Linked DNA regions of Homo sapiens: region 2 is linked to region 1. A link means that fine-mapping ties the variant in region 1 to the expression of a gene that starts in the linked region. Tissue or cell type: nucleus accumbens. Region 1 holds a variant in brackets; the other region holds the start of a gene. All regions are shown on one strand. Distances are between the middles of the regions.

The links. PIP is the estimated chance that this variant, and not a neighbour inherited with it, causes the effect.
Region 2: it holds the start of LINC02346, and the variant in region 1 is fine-mapped to the expression of LINC02346 in nucleus accumbens (GTEx, PIP 0.99).

What each region holds. Positions count from the first base shown.
Region 1 is chr15:26,025,454-26,032,104 of GRCh38, forward strand. The region is part of intron 2 of LINC02346 (long intergenic non-protein coding RNA 2346); the gene reads left to right. Among named protein-coding and RNA genes, the nearest start is that of TRE-TTC2-2, 54 kb to the right of the region's middle. The variant G/A (reference allele first, on the strand shown) is at 3,090.
Region 2 is chr15:25,899,949-25,906,599 of GRCh38, forward strand. LINC02346 (long intergenic non-protein coding RNA 2346) reads left to right here and starts at 2,412. Exons shown (of 5, transcript NR_040082.1): 1 at 2,412-2,618.

The DNA of each region.
Region 1 (6,651 bases):
AATCAGCCAAAGCAGAGAAAGTGCTTTACCTCCCCCAACTGCTAAAACAAAGCAAAAAGTTCCCCTTTTGTACAGGAAATTTATACCTACAAAAACATTTCATTAGTAAAGATGGCTGTACTAGGAACAGAGATAATTTTACAACAGAGATGTTATGGGGAAGAGTCCCAATTCAGACTCCAAGAGAGGGTTCTTGGATGTCATGCAAGAAAGAATTCAGGGCGAGTTTACAGAGTAAAGTGAAAGTAAGTTTATTAAGAAAGTAAAGGAATAAAAGAATGGCTACTCCATAGGCAGAGCAGCGCCGAGTACTGCTGGTTGCCCATTTTTGTGGTTATTTCTTGATGATATGCTGAGCAAGGGGTGGATTATTCATGCCTCCCCTTTTTAGACCATGTAGGGTAACTTCCTGACGTGGCCATGGCATTTGTAAACTGTCATGGCGCTGGTGGGAGTGTAGCAGTGAGGACGACCAGAGTTCATGCTCATGGCTGTCTTGGTTTTGGTGGGATTTATCCAGCTTCTTTACTGCAACTTGTATTTATTTATTTATTTATTTATTTATTTTGAGACAGAGTCTCACTCTGTTGCCCAGGGTGGAGTGCAGTGGCACGATCTCCGCTCACCGCAAGCTTGGCATCCTGGGTTCACGCCATTCTCCTGCCTCAGCCTCCCGAGCAGCTGGGACTGCAGGTGCCTGCCACCACGCCCAGATAATTTTTTGTATTTTTTTTAGTAGAGAAGGGGTTTCACCGGGTTAGCTAGGATGGTCTTGATCTCCTGACCTCATGATCCTCCCACCTCAGCCTCCCAAAGTGCTGGGATTACAGGCGTGAGCCACTGAGCCCGGCCCACTGCAACCTGTTTCATCAGCAAGATCTTTATGACCTGTATCTTGTGCTGACCTTCTATTTCATTCTGTGACTAAGAATGCCTAACCTCCTGGGAATGCAGCCCAGCAGGTCCAGCCTTATCTTACTTAGCACCTATTCAATATGGAGTTGCTCTGGTTGAAACACCTCTGACAGAGAGACTTTTATCTGGGTAACCAGGCAATGCTTATTCACCATACATTTCCTCCCCTCTTGTTACCCTCTTGTAACCACCCAATGGGCTCACCTTGCCTGCTGCCTAGATAGAACCGATTTATCGAGACAGGGGAACGACAATGGAGAAAGAGTGATTCACACAGAGCCGGCTGTGTAGGAGACCAGAATTTCATAGTTACTCAAATCAGTCTCCCCAAGCATTCGGGGATCAGAGTTTTTAAAGATAATTTGGCACATAGGGGCTTGGGAGGTGGGGATTGATTAGGTTGGAGATGGAATCACAGGGGGTTGAAGTTAGGTTTTTTTAATGTCTTCTATTCCTGGGTGCCATGGCAGAACTGGTTGGGCCGGATTACCAGTTTAGCTAGTGTCAGCTGATCCATTGAGTGCAGGGTCTGCGAGATATCTCAAGTGCTGATCTTAGGTTTTACAATAGTGATGTTATCCCCAGGAGCAATCTGGGGAGGTTCAGACTCTTGGAACCAGAGGCTGCATGACCCCTAAATTGTAATTTCTAATCTTGTAGCTAATTTGTTAGTCCTGCAAAGGCAGACTGGTCCCAGGCAAGAAGGGGTTCTTTTCAGGAAAGGGTTGTTATCAATTTTGTTTTAGGGTCAAACCATGAGCTGAATTCCTTCCCAAAGTTAGTTCTGCCTATGCCCAGGAACGAACAAGGACAGCTTAAGGGTTAGAAGCAAGATGGAGTTGGTTAGGTCTGATTTCTTTCACTGTCATAATTTCCTCAGTTATAATTTTGCAAAGATGGTTTTACTCTCATAACATGTCTCCACTCTCCCCCAAAGCCCAAGCCCCTGCTCCTTTCTGTAGCTCAGGATAGGGAGAGCGTATAAGTCTCAGTCATCTAGCTGCTTTGTTGAGTCTCCTATGTTTGTCACACTCCCTGTGAGTACGTACATAATTAAAAGTGTTTTTCTCCGGTTAATGTGTCTTATGTCAACTTATTTTGTAGACCAACGAAAGTACCTAGAAGGATAGAAGAAAGCACTTTTCCCTCCACTGTGGTGGCTATGAAAAACAATTCCCTCTAAAATTATATCAAGATGATCACATTTCTGGAACTAAAGCTTTTTCCAAAACATTTTTTTTGGGGGGTGAGGTAACCCAGGCTGGAATAAGTGGCTTTTCATCAGGAGAGTTCATAGTGCGCTGCAGGCTGGAACCCCTGGGCTCAAACTGTCCTCCCACCTCAGCCTCCCAACTGGCTGGTGCTGTAGGCATGAGCCACCATGCCTGGCAAAAATCTGTTTCTTTTTTTTCTTTCTTTCTTTCTTTTTTTTTTTTTTGAGACAGAGTTTCCCTCTTGTTGCCCAGGCTGGAGTGCAATAGCGCAATCTCGGCTCACTGCAACCTCCGTCTCCAGGGTTCAAGTGATTCTCCTGCCTCAGCCTCCTGAGTAGCAGGGATTACAGGCACCCGCCACCACACCTGGCTAATTTTTTTTTTTGTATTTTTAGTAGAGATGGGGTTTCACCATGTTGGCCAGGCTGGTCTCAAGCTCCTGACCTCAGGTGATCCACCCGTCTCCACCTCCCAAAGTGCTGGGATTACAGGCGTGAGCCTCCACGGCTGGCACAGATATGTTTCTTAATAAACATTTTCACTGCGAGAACTTCAGTGTATCAAGGTAGAGGTAGATTTTTAATATGCTGCATAGACAAATTCTGCAAAGGAAAAATGGAAAGGGTGCCCAGGAGACAGGCAGCCACGTACCTGTGATGCGTGTCATGCACCTCTGCATGGCATCCAATCGCGCCCCCTTCTCTGGCAGGACAGGAAGGAGCCTTTGCTTCGGGGCTGCGCATCTAAAATTGCCAGAGTAGGACAGCACATATTTGCAGGCTAACACAAGCATTTCTGAAAGGAAATGCATTTGGAAACTGAGTGGTATTGAAGCATCTATTTTTCTTGCTAGCAGCACAATCTGCCACCAGGAAGGTTTTAAACACTTTCCTGACAGAGAGTGCCTGCCTGAATTTTTTGGTAATTAATCATGCATAATACTTTAAATTCCACACAGGC[G/A]GCTGGCTGAAAACCCTCCAGGGATTGCTGCATTTGCTATCCGAAAGTCAACTCCTATGCCTTCGGAGAGTGAGGAAGATCAGAGAGGGGCATTTTTGCCTGTTTTAATGTCGCCATCAGTCACCAGGCAAGTCTGCAATCTTTGCTGCATCCTTCCATGGTATCGGCACAAGCAAGGCTGTAGGTATCTAATACATATTTAAGAGTATGGGATGTAATAAAATCGGGTAATTCCTTGCCTTGGCTGGCACCACAGTATTCTCAAATAGGAAGACTGGGTGCTAGGATCTGTCTGCTGTGCTTGTGTGGGCTCACTTGAAGAGTCAGATCACATCCCTCTCTTGTTTGGCCAGCTCTGTTAGAACCATGGTGGTGGGTAATTAAATGATACACCAGCGCCTCTCACCTGACAGCTTAAGAGAACGTTCACATATATTTACATATATATTTCAGATACACATATATTTCACAGTTGTAAACCAAAAGGTATGTGAGACAGGTCTCAATCGATTTAGAAAGTTTATGTTGTCAAGGTTAAGGATGCACCTGTGATGCAGCCTCAGAAGGTCCCAACATGTGCCCGAGGTGGTCCAGGCACAGCTTGGTTTTATACATTTTAGGGAGACAAGAGATAAACACTGGTTCCTTCGGTCTGCAAAGGTAGGACAACTCCAAGTGGGGAGGGGGCTTCCAGGTCTTAGGTAGAAAAGAGAAAAACAGTTGCATCCTTTTGCGTTTCTGATTAGCTCTTCATTGAATGTGCCATTTACAGGAATAGTCGCTTACGCCTTAATCTGGCTTAGTGAAACAATAGGGCAAAGGAAGCAATCAGATTTGCATTTGTCTCACATGAGCAGAGGGATGACTTTGAGTTCTGTCTGTTGTTGACGAAAAGAGTCAAACTCTGTGAAATATCTGAAGAGATTTATTCTGAGCCAAAAATGAGTGACCACGGCCCATGACACAGCCCTCAGGAGGTCCTGGGAACATGTGTCCAAGGTGGTCGGAGTGCAGCTTGATTTTATATATTTTAGGGAGGCATGAGACATTAATCAAATACATTTGAGAAATACATTGATTTGGTTCAGAAAGGCAGGACAGTTTGAAGCAGGGGCTTCCAGGCTATAGGTGAATTTAAGCATTTTCTGGTTGGCAATCGGTTGAGTTTGTCTGAAGACCTGGGATGGATATAAAGGGAATGTTCGGGGCCGGGCATGGTGGCTTACGCCTGTAATCCCAGCACTTTGGGAGGCGGGTGGATCACCTGAGGTCAGGAGTTCCAGATCAGCCTGGCCAACATGGAGAAACCCCTGTCTCTACCAAAAATACAAAAATTAGCCTGACGTGGTGGTGGCTGCCTGTAATCCCAGCTACTCAGGAGGCTGAGGCAGGAGAATTCCTCGAACCTGGGAGCCAGAGGTTGCAGTGAGCAGAGATCACCCCATTGCACTCCAGCCTGGCAACAGAGTGAGACACTCTTGGGAAAAAAAAGAAAGAAAGAAAGAAAGAAAGAAAGAAAGAAAGAAAGAAAGAAAGAAAGAAAGAAAGAAAGAAAGAGAAAAGAAAGAAAGAAAGAAAGAAAGAAAGAAAGAAAGAAAGAAAGAAAGAAAGAAAGAAAGAAAGAAAGAAAGAAATGGAATATTCAGGTTAAGATAAAAGATTGTAAAGACCAAGATTCTTTTGAAGTCTTATAGTGGCTGCCCATAGAGACAATAAATGACAAATATTTCCTATTCAGACCTCCAAAAGGTACTAGACTCTCAGTTAATCTCTTCAGGACTGGGTGGGGGGGCCTGGAAGAAAAAGATCTAGCTATGTTGATAGAGATTTTTTACAGATGCAAATTTTCCCCCACAAAGGATGGCTTTGCAGGGCCATTTCAAAATATGGCAAAGAAACATATTTTGGGGTAAAATATTTTTATCTTCTTCTTTGTCACAAAATGTTATGCCAGAGTCACATTGGAAAGTAAGTCACGATATATAGGGTTAAATAAAACCCATCTGATGAGAATTTGTGGTTTGTAGGGCATGACTCCCCAGACTCCTTAGATAGGAATTTGGGCAAAATAAGAAAAAAATCACAACTTAGCCCTGTCTTTCATCCACTGGGAATTTTCTTGCGGGAAAATTGTGAGGGAGATATGTAGCTTTTTTGTCTTTGTAGCTGTCTTATTTAGGAATATAATGGGAGGCAGGTTGGCCGGAGCAGCTCCCAGCTTGACTTTTCCCTTAGTGATTTTGGCTTAGTGATTCTGGAGTCCCAAGGTTTATTTTCCTTTCACACATTATTACCTTCATGACAGGGCAGTGTAGTGGGCCATTTCAAAATATGGCAAAGAAACATATTTTGGGGTAAAATATTTTTATCTTCTTCTTTGTCACAAAATGTTATGCCAGAGTCACATTGGAAAGTAAGTCACGATATATAGGGTTAAATAAAACCCATCTGATGAGAATTTGTGGTTTGTAGGGCATGACTCCCCAGACTCCTTAGATAGGAATTTGGGCAAAATAAGAAAAAATCACAACTTAGCCCTGTCTTTCATCCACTGGGAATTTTCTTGCGGGAAAATTGTGAGGGAGATATGTAGCTTTTTTGTCTTTGTAGCTGTCTTATTTAGGAATATAATGGGAGGCAGGTTGGCCGGAGCAGCTCCCAGCTTGACTTTTCCCTTAGTGATTTTGGCTTAGTGATTCTGGAGTCCCAAGGTTTATTTTCCTTTCACACATTATTACCTTCATGACAGGGCAGTGTAGTGAAGGAAAAAAGGGCTTCCCTTCACCCTTCTAGGTTCTTTGACTGGGCTATGAATTAGATTAACAAAAAAAGTATGAACAGTCTGGGCACAGGGGCTCATGTGTGTAATCCTAGCACTTTGGGAGGCCGAGGCAGGCAGACCACTTGAGGTCAGGAGTTCGAGACCAGCCTGGCCAATGTGGTGAAACCCTGACTCTACTAAAAAATACAAAAAAAATTAGTCAGGCATGGTGGTGGGCACCTGCAATCCCAGCTACTCGAGAGGCTGAGGCAGAGAATTGCTTGAACCTGGGAGATGGGGGTTGCAGTGAGCCGAGATTTTGCCACTGCCCTCCAGCCTGGGCAACAGAGCCAGACTCTGTCTCAAGAAAAAAAAAAATGAACAGGATAAAAACTATTCTAATTACGTACGTATGCACAGCAGTCCCACAAAAATGTGAGACAAAAATGTGAGAAGGGCCAGATGACTGAAACTTAATTGACATCCTGAGCTCCAGAAAGGAAGAGGGGCTGGGGCTTCAGGGGTGGTGGAGGCAGGGCATGGAAGGGTGAGGGGAGGACATGTCGGGGAAGAGGTTCTGCCTCGTCATGCAGATAAAAGTCTGTAAGTGAGAAAGATGTCTGGGAGTAGCTGTCTTCCTGGTGTGCATACTTTTACTAATGAAAATTTCCTTTATAGGAGTAAATTTATAGGGGAGTTTTTCAGAGTTACTTTTGTGTTCACATTTTCTCAAAATAATCAGCTCAAAGTAATCAATATACCAAAGAGGCACATTGTGAGGTGATGGATTCTACAGTCATA
Region 2 (6,651 bases), 130 kb before region 1:
AAAATATTTTTTATAAATTTAATGCAGCCTAAGTGTACAGTGTTTCTAAAGTCTATAGTATTCTACAGTAATGTCCTGGTCTTCACATTCACTCACCACTCACTCACTGACTCATCCAGAGTAACTCCCTGTCCTGCAAGCCCCATTCATGGTAATTGTCTTATCCGGGTGTCCCATTCTTCATCTTTTACACTACATTTTTACTGTATCTTTTCTATGTTTAGATATGTTTGGATAGACAAATACTTACCATTGTGTTATAACTGCCTACAGTATTCAGTACAGTAACATGCTGTATAGGTTTGTAGCCTAGGAGCAATAGGCCGTCCCATACAGCCTAGGGGTGTTGGATGCTATGCCATCCAGGTTTATCTATGAAGTTTGCAGGATGACAGAATCACTTAATGAGCATTTCTCAGAGTGTATCCCTGTTGTTAAGTGACAAGTGACTGTGTATACACACACACACACGCACACACCACACGCACACACACACACTACAGGAAGATACAGCCTTAAAATGACAATGGACTGCTGTGTAAAAGGAGTTTTAGAGAAATATAATGTGTTCTTGGAATTTTGAAACATGATAAATGAAACATGAGCCAAAGGTTAGAGCAGGATAATAAATTGGAAATGGCTGAACACCAAGTTGCAAATCTGGAAGCTAAAGCTGGGGAAATCTCTCAGGACTTACTTGAAAAAGACATAAATGGAAACTCACAGAAGAACTGGAGCCAGAAGCTACGGACAGTGGTTACCTCAGTGGAGTGAGAAGGCCTGTGATTTCACTGATGGCCCTTCTGAACCATGTGAATTTCTTCCTTCACCACATGCAGACATCAGTTAATAGGACAGATTAAAGTTGCATGCTAGCTGATGGCTGCCGGGGAGGCAGGAATACTCAATTAAGCGCGGCACAGTTCTCGTGGGTTCTTGTTGAATAGTGCAAGTTGGGAGTCCGGTCTTGTTCACCGTTTCCCTCTGTTCTCTAGGAGTGGGCAACCACTCTCATGGATGGCTCATACCTATTACGTGAGCTGCCCTGTGATAACTCACTGTCTCCCTTCTGTCTCAGAAGGCCTGCCTTTCCTTTGCCCTAGTTGTGAGGCATTTGGAATTCAGCCAATCTGCAATGCTGAATGTGGAGGAGGATCCATGTGACATGGTTGGAGCCAAGGTGTTGAGCAAAGCCTCATCTGTCTGGACAAACTTCAGTCCTCACAAGCAAGCAAGCTATGCCCAAGCTTATGTGCAATGCTTTGAATGGGCAGAGGTCAGTCTGACAGTGACAGTGTGAGAACGATGTGGAGCTGGGCCTGGGTGGGGAGAAGGTGCCCGTCCTCCATGAGTCTAAGTGGAGTGTACCCTTTTGACTCACAGATCCACGTATTCCTGTCACCAGTTGGTGCATGAAGGCAATACAGTCTCCTGAGTTTCTACAATACCAGGTCTGTCATTTAGTTGTCCTTGTTTTTAAGTGAGAGTGAAGTTCACTATTCTGAGGTCCAGGGAGGGGTGAGGAATTCCAGCATTAGGTTTGGCCTCAGGAAGAGGGACTGGGAGAATTTGATAATGGGGAGTGCGGTAGGCTGAGTTGTAACATGGTTCCCAAAGTCCCCACCCTCATGTACATACTCTGAATAGCATCTCCCCTTGAGTGTGGGATACTCCTGTGAAGACAACAGGGTTTCAGTGTGAACAGGCAAAAAGGGACTTTGCAAATGTAGTGAAGGTCCCTGATCAGTTCACTTTGAGTCAATAAAAAGGAGATTATCCTGAGTGGGCTTGACCTAATCGGGTGATCCCTTAAAGGAGACAAGAGGCAGCAATAGACATCCTCCTTCTGGCCTTGAGGAAGTCAGCTGCCATATTTTGCTCTTTTTTTTTTTTTTTTCCTTTTGTAGAGACAGTCTCCCTATGCCACCCAAGCAAGTCCGGAATTCCTGGCTCAAGCGATCCTCCTGCCTCTGCCTCTATGAGTACCGGGAGAACAGGTGTGAGCCGCTGCCCAGTCATATTTTGATTGACACTCTCCAAATGTGAGAGTGGCCTCTAGGAGCTTGGAGTGACCCCTGGCTGACAGCCAGCAAGAATATACAGACCTCAGTGTTACAGCCCAGCTGGATCCTGCCAAGCACCAGTGAGCTGGAAGAGGATCCCCAGCCTCAGATGAGCCTGCAGCCTGTGCTGATGCCTGGATTTCAGCCTGGGAGACTCTCAGCAGAGGACTCGGCTCAAGGCTGTCTACAGTCCTGATCTACCAGAACCATGAGATAATAAACAGGCATTGTTTAGGTAGTGAAATGTGGTTACACATAAATAGGAACCCAGTGCAGCGTAAGATGCCCTGGCATATCAAGGGCGGTTCATGAGTGGGTGCCTTCAGCTTGGGAGGAAGCAGGCATAGGGCTGATGCATCGCAGTGTCCACATATGCAGGGAGGCTGGTTTCCTAGGAAGCCTCCCAATGAGGAAATTGTTGGGAATGTGCTGCAAGGCGCTGCCTCGCTCTGGAGCCAGACGAGAGGCCGGAGCATCCGCCCCAACATGGCTGGCTGTGTGAGCCTCAGGAACGCTGGCAGCTCTGCAAGACTCTCTGCCATCTGCAAAATGTGGGTGAGCATATCCCCCCAGCCACACAATTCTTGGGGATGGAGTGAGACAATTCTTAGAAAGCTCTAGTTGCAGTGCGGGTGCACAGGAAGGGCTCTGTGCACACTGATGCATGTTGCTCTAGCTCAAAGTGTCCCTTGAGCAGCTGGGGTGTGATCTCCAAGTGCACCCACCAGCCGGTCTCACCTGGCCTGGGCTCCGAGCAGGGGTCAACCTGAGGGCATTTCACTCCAGATCCAGCATGGGTTTGAGGAAGGGGCCAATGAGGGGCCAGTGGCCACAAAATAGCACTTGATTCTGATCATAAGCCCAGTCACTAAGAGGCGGGTAAAAAGAAATGCATTACCCATTTGACAAATTTTCTATGGTGAATGAATACAAATACTGGGTTACAATGAGCACTTGGCTAGCTGGCTAAAGGTAGGGCCCCAAATAGGGGGGCTGAATGGAGGTGAGAAGCCTGTGACCATTGCTGAGGCATGGGCAGGGACTCGGGCACACACGTGTGGGCAGCTCCGTGGTGTTAACCTCCAGCCTGGGTCAGTTGCTGGCCTGGGCTGACTGTGGTGACCACAGGCCAGGGGATATTGGGAGGGACTGAAAACCATGAAACAAAGCAGAACAAACTTGCCACTCCAAAACCTCACACACGGCAGGAAGTGGGCCAGCCTGGAGTTACTGAGGGGGCTGTGGCCGGGCACACCCTGTCCTACCTGAACCCAGAGTGTCAAAGACAAACAAAGCCAGGCAGTAGTGAGAGGGTCAGGAGAGATTTTTCACAGTAATAACCGTTGCAGTGGGGAAGAGGTTACAGTGTGAACTGAAGTCAGCTTGGATGTGTACAGAGGTGAGTGGATTTTTCCAAGGGAGGAGGGAGGGGTGAGGGAAGGCTTGCTGGAGTCAGGAAGTGAGAAATTGCAAAGCCCAGGAAGGAGGGGCCGGCCCCACTGGGCTGCTAACTGGCTCTGGTCGAAGTTAGCTCCTGATGTCCCACAGAGGCCGGGAGACAGGGGCCGTAGCTGCAGGGATTGGCTGGAACAGGGTATTTTTTGGCGGTCTTGAGTTTCCTGAGGTAGGGACTATAAGGGGGGCTGGTGTCATCCTAGGGATGTGGCCATGAGTTGCTAGATGCCATGTTAGTGTTAGCTGAAGTCTTTATAGGCCAGCGTGGAGGTATTGTTGAGAAGAGGACTCAGAGGAGCCTGGCTGGCAGTTGGTCGAGGAGAGATCTTAGTCTAGGGCCCCACACAGCCCAGGTTCCAGGGATGTGGGTCCTGGCCAAGTATCCCATGGGCTCCTGCCTTTGGCTCACTCGAGTGGGCCTCAGGGACTCGCCACCAAAAAATCTGAGACGCCAGCCTCAAGGATGTGAGGGTGTCACATCTGTCCTCCACAAAGAGCCCAAGCAAGATGAGAAACAGCTTCATGACCCCCATAATGAACAAGCCTTTTAATGTCAGGACAGCTGCAAGCCCTTCTTCAAGCTCTCGGCCTCACCTGTCTTCCTTATAACCACAGAAAATGTCACTCCTCCTCTGATTTGCCTTCTATACCATGCCCTTCCATCTGAGGCAATCTTGTGAAGCATTCCACGTGGTCCTCCTGGGCCAGCTCACCCTCATGACCCCTGGGCTGCAGGCCACAGCTCTCCCTGGCGGACCAGGAGGCTGGCATGGCAGCATGGATAGAAAGTGTCTTTTACCTAAGTCATCATTCATTAACTCCAGTTACATTAGAGATGTTTCCTGCTGGAAAACTTTCAGAATCATCTCTTTTTGAGAAAAAGGTGTGTGTATTTTTTTAAACAACAGCAATAGTCCAAGTCTGACTACTAAGAGCACATTTTTATTTTTAAAATTAGACATTGTGCTGAAAACAAGTTTATTAAAATATGATCTATAACCTAATTTTATTCTTTCTTATAGACATGGGGGTCTCAGTATGTTGCCCAGGCTGGTCTTGAACTTCTGGCCTCAAGTGATCCTCCCACCTCAGCATCCCGGGTAGCTAGAACTAGAGGCACACACCACTGTACCCAGCTATGACTTGGTTTTAATTGTCAAGGGAACCAGATTTGTGAAAGAACAAAAACAGTGGCATTTGTTTGTCTGGAAATGGGGCCATCTGGGTTCTCCATCTCTTGGGGGCTGTGTTTGGAAAGGAAGAGCTGTCAGTCTGGGTTCCAGGCCGATCCTCCCCGCAGTGGCTTTCTTCCTCTCTCGCCTGGAGGACATCTCATAGTTCTTGCCCTCAGGGTCCCCCCAGGCCGCCTTATCCTCCTGGCTTTTCATCCCCTGCAATGTGCCACTCAGCTGCTGAGCTTCCAGGCCAGGCCTGCAGTTTCCTGGGTACCCAGCATGAGTGGGGCTCTCAGCTGAAGGGTGGGTCAGGTGGTACAGGAGCCTCCATAACAGTTTGCTAAATATATGAATAAATAAATTATAAAACGTTAGTCCCCCTGCCAAAAAAAAAGCACAAAACACAGTTTGAGGTGATGTGTTTTTGCCCTTGCCTGAGGGAGTTGGGATTTACACAATGCCACCATTTGCAAACTGGGATCTACAAGCCCCAGCAAGACACAAAGTTTGCAAGGGCACAGGCAGTGTTAAGCAAGCTGTGTTCCAGAACCTAACACCATCTTCATGGGCAGGCCCTGATGGAGATGCAGTTCTTCCCCGCCTTCCTCCACAGCACCCAGCTCCCTCCCCAAGCAGATCTTTCCACCCAGGGCAATGTTGCATCAGCCCAGAGGAGGAAGGCCTCCCTGGCCATGGCCACAGCCCACCCACCAGAGGATATTTGCAGTGTTGGGAAAGTGTGAGAAAGTGAGTGACTAATGGCTGTGTTACTAATCTTCTGGCAAGTCAGATTGTTCTAGTTCTTTGCTTTCCATGAACTGAAAGAGGATCTAGTCAATTTATAAACTGATGGATTAGATCATTAAAAGTAATTTTTAGGCCGGGTGCAGTGGCTCATGCCTGTAATCCCAGCACTTTGAGAGGTTGAGGTGGGAGGACTGGTTGAGCCCAGGATTTCAAGACCAACCTGGGCAACATAGTGAGACCCCGCGTCTACTAAAAATAAAAATTAACGGGCGTGGTGGCACACATCTGTGATCCTGGCTACTCAGGAGGCTGAGGTGGGAGGACCCCTTGAGTTTAGGAGTTTGAGGCTGCAGTGAGCCATGATTGTACCACTACACTCTAGCCTGGGTGACAAAGCAAGACTATCTCAAAAAAATTTTTTTATGATCAATCTTCATGTAATTTTCAGCACATAACTTAGAAGGAGTGGAATCTTTACAACAAAACACTTTCCATTCAGATGTATTTACTCATGTAAAAACGTTTTTCGCCATGCTTACATATATAAAAAATAGGAATCCAACTGATACCGAATCATGTGTCATGCCACCGATAAGTAATATTCATCCATGGATACATAAAGTAATTTGAAAACAGTTTTAGTACCATTTATCTCGTTATAAGATGTGTTTCTGATAAGTGTATATTTTCACTATTAATAATTATCAAGTTATAATGTAGTCATTTTACCTTCATGAATTGAGTGTTAATAACCATGATAACTGGAATACATCATTTACAATAACTGGAAAAAGTTATTTAACATTTAGAGACATGTTGAAGAAAATTAAAATTGTAAGTTTTTATACATAGCTTTTGTAGCAAGAAACCTGATAGTGTGATGAACAGAAGAGTTTTAAGCATAAGAAATTGTTATAATAAAATTCTGTGGAGGAAGAGGAATGAAAACAGGAGTTGCAGTAGAAAAAATGGATACTTAAGGAGGAGATTGTTCACACACATTTTTTTTTTTTTGAGACAGGGTCTCACTCTATGACCCAGGCTGGAGTGCAGTGATGTGATCTCAGCTCACTGCTTCCTTGACCTCCTGGGCTCAAGTGATCCTCCTACCGCAGCCTCCTGAGTAGCTAAGACTACAGGCACCTTCTGCCATGCTCAGCTAATTAAAAAACAAATTTTGTAGAGACAAGGTCTTGCTGTGTTGCTGAGGT